2 separate regions of the Homo sapiens genome follow, and region 1 is linked to region 2. Evidence: fine-mapped QTL for protein levels in blood plasma. Region 2 holds a variant in brackets. A gene starts in the other region. All regions are shown on their forward strands.

Evidence for each region. PIP is the posterior inclusion probability: the model's chance that the variant is causal. The UK Biobank Pharma Proteomics Project read protein levels with antibody pairs (Olink). The fine-mapping took linkage between variants from a reference panel, not from the people measured, so its PIPs are less certain.
Region 1: it holds the start of KLKB1, and the variant in region 2 is fine-mapped to the plasma level of the KLKB1 protein (UK Biobank, PIP above 0.99).

What each region holds. Positions count from the first base shown.
Region 1 is chr4:186,225,919-186,228,839 of GRCh38, forward strand. KLKB1 (kallikrein B1) reads left to right here and starts at 1,589. Exons shown (of 15, transcript NM_000892.5): 1 at 1,589-1,669; 2 at 2,277-2,335. The coding sequence starts at 2,278. RefSeq lists an enhancer at 96-766.
Region 2 is chr3:186,742,212-186,745,132 of GRCh38, forward strand. KNG1 (kininogen 1) reads left to right here. Exons shown (of 10, transcript NM_001102416.3): 10 at 1-2,199. The coding sequence ends at 120. Among named protein-coding and RNA genes, the nearest start is that of KNG1, 26 kb to the left of the region's middle. The variant C/T (reference allele first, on the strand shown) is at 1,524.

The DNA.
Region 1 (2,921 bases), not on the chromosome of region 2:
GTCCTATAAGTCTTGTCAGCTTTCTGCAATTTTTATCATTCCTTTTATTACTCTGACTGGGTAATTTCAAATGACCTGTATCTGAGCATGCTGATTCTTTCTCCTGCTTGATCTAGTCTGCTGCTGAAGCTGTTTGTGAATTTTTTCAATTCAGTCATTTTGTTCTTTAGCTCCAGAATTTCTGTTTCATTCTTTTTTATGGTTCCTATCTATCTTTTTGTTGAACTTCTAATTTTGCTCATGTATTGTTTTCCTGATTTTGTTTACTGTCTATCTATATTGTTTTGTAGCTTATTGAGCTTTCTTAAGGCAATTATTTTTAGCTCTTGTCATGCAGTAAAGATCTCCATTTCTTTAGGGTCACCTCCTGCTGCTTTATTTCCTTCCTTTGGTGGTTTCTTGTTTCCCCGATTATTTGTGATCAGTGTGGCCTTGCACTGAAGTAGGCACCTATTTCAGTCTTTACATACTAGCTTCAGCAGAGAAAGCCATTCACTAGTCAGATTGACCAGAGATTGTTGGTGGGCTGTCTGTTGGGGTCTATGCACAGGATTTCTGCTGGAGTTCTAAGGTGGGAAGGGCTGGATTCTGGGTTCATTCACTGTGGTTGTCTGTATTCTGTGCACAAGGACTGGCTTGAAGCATGGATCCTTGGGGGCTGACTTGGCACTGAAATGAGCCTTAAGCCTGCGTCTGCAGGGGCCAGCCTAACATGGGGATCACCTGGCACCTGAGTTCATGGGGATAGGCCTGTTCCTGAGTTTATTCAGGCTGTCCTGGGAACAAGGTCCACTGGGGTGAGCCCAGCATCTGGGTCCACATGGCCCAGCATGGAGCCAAGATCTCTGGAGGCTGACCTGGTGCTGGATCTGCAGGGGATGGCCTGGATTCTAGGCCCATGGGTGCCAACTTGGAGCCTGGGGTTGCTGGGGCTAACGTGGAGGCTAGATAGAGTCTTGGGGGCCAGGCTAGAGCTGGAGCAGGCCTGAAGTCTAGGTTTTGTGTGGCCATCTTGGAGCCTGAAGCCCCAGGGGCTGACCTGGTCTGGGGTGAGCATGGGGCTGAGGCCACAGAGGCTGGTCTGGCCTGTGGCAGGCCTGAATCCTGGTGCTGGGGTTTACTGGAGTGGGCTTGGTGCTTGGGATCTGTGGTGAAGTTAGGTTCTATCTTAACTGTCCCTCCTCCATGCAAGAGGGCATCTCTCTCCATACTGTGCTGCCCAGGCTTGAAGGTGAGATGACACCGGTAATGTGAAATTGTCCTTCCTATACACTTCTATGTGTCTTTTCTTATTTCTGTGCTGCAACCAGGTGGCATAACCTCTCACCTGATTCCTTAGCTCTAGTGAAGTTATTTTCGTGCATGGATACTTGTTCGAATTGATGTTTCTGCAAGGGATGAGCGCTAGAAACTCCTGTTCTGACAAACTCCTATTCCTATTCTTGCTGACATCACTCCCTGAAATAGTTAATATACTTAACAGCTGAACACGGATAGGATGTTCATGGAATATGTTGACAGGACAAAAAGTTGAAACTGTTGGCAGAAACCCAAAGTCAATATTGAAGCCAAGCAAAATATTGCCTGCAGTGCCACATTAGAACAGCTTGAAGACCGTTCATTTTTAAGTGACAAGAGACTCACCTCCAAGAAGCAATTGTGTTTTCAGGTAGCAAATTTTTATTATTCTGATTGTTTCCAAATAAACTATAATTTTTAAGTATAATTTTTTACTTTATGAGAAAATTAATCATTTATATTCTAATTTCCTGAGTATGTAGAGAGTATAGATAATGTTCCTTTATGTAGAAATATTTAAATGTAAGATGATTTTAAATCAGAAAGAATATTTGATTGATTTAAAATTTTTAAATGGGCTTTAATATTTTCAGAGGTTTTCTTTACTTAGGGATTTTTGGACTGACATTATTGCCATTATTTATTAATTTTGTTTTTGCCCAAATCAAGAGGTTTCATAATTGTTTACTCTCTCTCTACCAATTCCCTTTCCAACATTACTAGCCACAGAGTTGGCCAATGAACAATAAACACAACAGTAGTCTGGAGGTCTCAATTTGTATCTTGGGAAGCATTATAAATTTTCCAACTCCCTAGACACAAATGTACCAAAAAAAAACCCTTGTTTTCTATACCAGTAATTGTGTGCTTTGTCTTGCAATTCAGACATTTACAAGAAAATCTAAATCACCTTAAATTAAGATTTATGTTAAATGTGGTCTAAAACCAGCAGAGTTATGTATTGTTTTCTTTTTTAGAATGATTTTATTCAAGCAAGCAACTTATTTCATTTCCTTGTTTGCTACAGTTTCCTGTGGTAAGTGAATTATCTATAAAACATGGAATTCAGGCTAAGACAGGAGTAGCCAAGCAAGTGGCACCACCCCTGGAGAAAGCTATTGAACATACAGCTTCGGGGGTGGAGATTGTCCCTGATGATTCAGGACACGTGTCTATTTAATGTTCCACAACAAGGACCACTTGTCAGGTATATTGCTGTAGACATATGTTGCAGACCAGAGGAAGGAGCTCAGAAGTAGGAATGTCTTGGGACTTGTGTTAACAAAAACTTCTGTTCGCAGATGACACTCTGCAAAGCAAAACTTGAAACAAAAAAAAATTAGTCCTCTATTTTTATTATCAACAGTAAAAAATTAAACTTTATCTGAAAATTCAAAAGAGTGCTAGGCATTTTATAGTGTCTGGGTCCAATCCAAGTATCTGTTAGGAACACCATACATAGTTTTACTCTGGACCGCTAGGGAACCATTTCAAAAATGAAAGTAACTGGTTTAAATTTAACTTAGCAAACCATGCATTTGGATAGTTCTAGGTGAATAGCTTTCAACACCAGATTTAGATCTCATTTCTCTATTAATTTCATTAATTTTTGGAGAATAAAA
Region 2 (2,921 bases):
TTTCCAGACACGACCTCCCCAAAATGTCCTGGACGCCCCTGGAAGTCAGTTAGTGAAATTAATCCAACCACACAAATGAAAGAATCTTATTATTTCGATCTCACTGATGGCCTTTCTTAATTTAAGTGGCTATGGGTATTTCTTTCATACTTTATTAAAGTATCAATATCCCTCTCTCCATTGTCCAGATGAAAATATCCTGATATAATGCACCAAAAACCATGCAGCTTCGGAACAGTCTAAAGAGAAGTGGTGAGACTCCCAGTGGAGACACCATCAGTCTCCACGGACTGCATAAAATTGTGTGCCACAATTCTAACTCTTTTCTGAATCTTCTTCCCAAGTTTTCTAAACTAGCACAGTAAACAGACAAACTAATGTGCCGTATGGCCTGCTGCAATTGGCTTCTCTGATAACAAATATGTACCTTACAACATATGTCATGAATTTGCATACAAAGATTCTTGTCATTCTTAATAAACTGTGGCACTTGGTATTTGAATGTGTGTGAAAATAAGGGAAGTCAAGAGATTAAATGCTGAACTTATTAATGGAATAGAAATAATAAGGAGGCTGAGGCTGGAGAATTGCTTGAACCCGGGAGGCGGAGGTTGCAGTGAGCCGAGATCGTGCCACTGCGCTCCAGCCTGGGCATCAGAGCAAGATTCTGTCTCAGAAAAAAAGAAAAAAAAAGAAATAATAAGAAAAACTTCCAGATTTCAAAGTAACAAGAAAGAAGACAGGTTGGCCAAAGGGAGGAAAGGGGGGACATAAATTAATTGACTTTCTATTCCCAAAATGGGCTAGTTATATCAAATAAATACTCCCACTGCCCTTTCTGAGTGAGAGTGTTTCTCATAAGTCAAAAATTTCTGTTTACTCATTAACTACTCTTTGCAACAGGCTTTCATATAGAAGTATTCTGTTTATTTTTGCTGAGCCTAGATTGAGTAATTCTTAGTTTACAGAAGCTCCGAGCTTAATGATAAGGATGAAAAGCAGAGGGAGCAATATAGAAGCAGGCTTGCTAATAAAACTTTTTAAATAATTGACAAGGGAATATTATGGAATGTGATGCAAAGTTTGTTCCGAAATTTTATGAGGAAATTACTCTCTAGTCTCACTTTATAGTCTTTTTGCTATGACTTTGAAGACCATTGATTTTTGAGAAGCAGAATAATAGGATTGCCTTTCATTGCCCTATAGTGCAAAGAAGGTATATGCTTTATAACCAATGTTGTACTTTTGCCTAGAAAAACAAGATATGGCTTTAAATAGCTACAATCATCTTTGGATGTATATGTCACTGCTGCTTCAAGTTATTGGATGCATTTGAACCTCTGAGTTTGTCTTTCATTTTAAATATTGTCTGTTCTTTTAAATAAACAACCACAGATGTCAGGAAAAAGTCTTACCTTGTCAACTGGTTGCTCCACTTTTTAAAAATGATTGAATGATAACATCATATTAACTGCGTTTTACTATACTTACAGAGTCACCTAAGGTCCTGCGAGTACAAGGGT[C/T]GACCCCCAAAGGCAGGGGCAGAGCCAGCATCTGAGAGGGAGGTCTCTTGACCAATGGGCAGAATCTTCACTCCAGGCACATAGCCCCAACCACCTCTGCCAGCAACCTTGAGAGGAAGGACAAGAAGAAAGATGGGATAGAATTTAAATAGAGAAGAATGCCATTTTATCACTCTGCCTCTGGGTGAAATAAAGATCAGTCTTGATGTTCTAACTCTAATTCACAGTGGTCTCCTTTCAGCCCTACCCATTCTGCAGCAAATTCCAGCTGGTCAGAGAGTCAGTGCTGTGGCTCTGCCATGGAGGCTCATAACCCAACACTGGAACATTCCCTAGCCAAGGCAGAAGTCCTTAGGCGGGACTTCCTTACCACCACGGGTGCTAAAAGAAGAGTTAGTAGGTCATGCTTCTACCAGTAATCTAAGGACTCTCTCCTTCTCTTCTTCCTCTTTCTCCAGATTTCCAAGCCTTAGCTAAGAGTAATTTGGCTTGTTTAGTATTGTTTTCTTATGGTCCAGTTAATTACCAAAAATATTTTTAAAATCATCTCTGTTAATAGAATGTCTACCAACTTCTCACTATCAGAAAATACTCAACCTCCAAACAATTTGAAATTATCTTTCTGATCCAGGTAAAGAAGCAAATTGAAAATCAATAAAGTAAAAAGTGACGGAGATTTTAAATTTTCTGTAATAAAAACACTTATTGGGTTGGGCATGGTGGCTCACGCCTGTAATCCCAGCACTTTGGGAGGCCGAGGTGGGTGGATGACCTGGCGTCAGGAGTTCGAGACCAGCCTGGCCACATGGCGAAACTCCATGTCTAATAAAAATACAAAATTAGCCGGGCGTGGTGGCACGCACCTGTAATCCCAGCTACTCCAGAGGCTGAGGCAGGAGAATCACTTGAGCCTGAGAGGTGGAGGTTGCAGTGAGCTGAGATTGCACCACTGCATTCCAGGCTGGGTGACAAAATGAAATTCAGTCTCAAAAGAAAAAAAACATTTATCGAACACCTATTACAGCCATTTGCTATGCTAGATAATTTACTTTTGGCATATAACTTAATCCTCACAACCACTCTAAGGCCCCCATGAACATCATTCTTTTACAAGGAAACTGTAGTTCACAGTGCCCTGCCCAGGGTCATATAGTTAATAAGTGGCAGGGCTGGCATTCAGACTTAGACCTTTTGAACTCCATTACACCATGTCATCTGAAGGCTTTATTATTAATGTTGTCATTACAAAAGACACACCAAGTCACTGACTACAGTCACAGAGACCCAATAAATTAAAAAAAAAAAAAGGCATGCCAAGACAATGTCTGACTCTGAGAGGATCCTTGTCTCAATCCAAAATATCCTTATTAAATACCTAATTGTGGCTGGTGCTGTTCT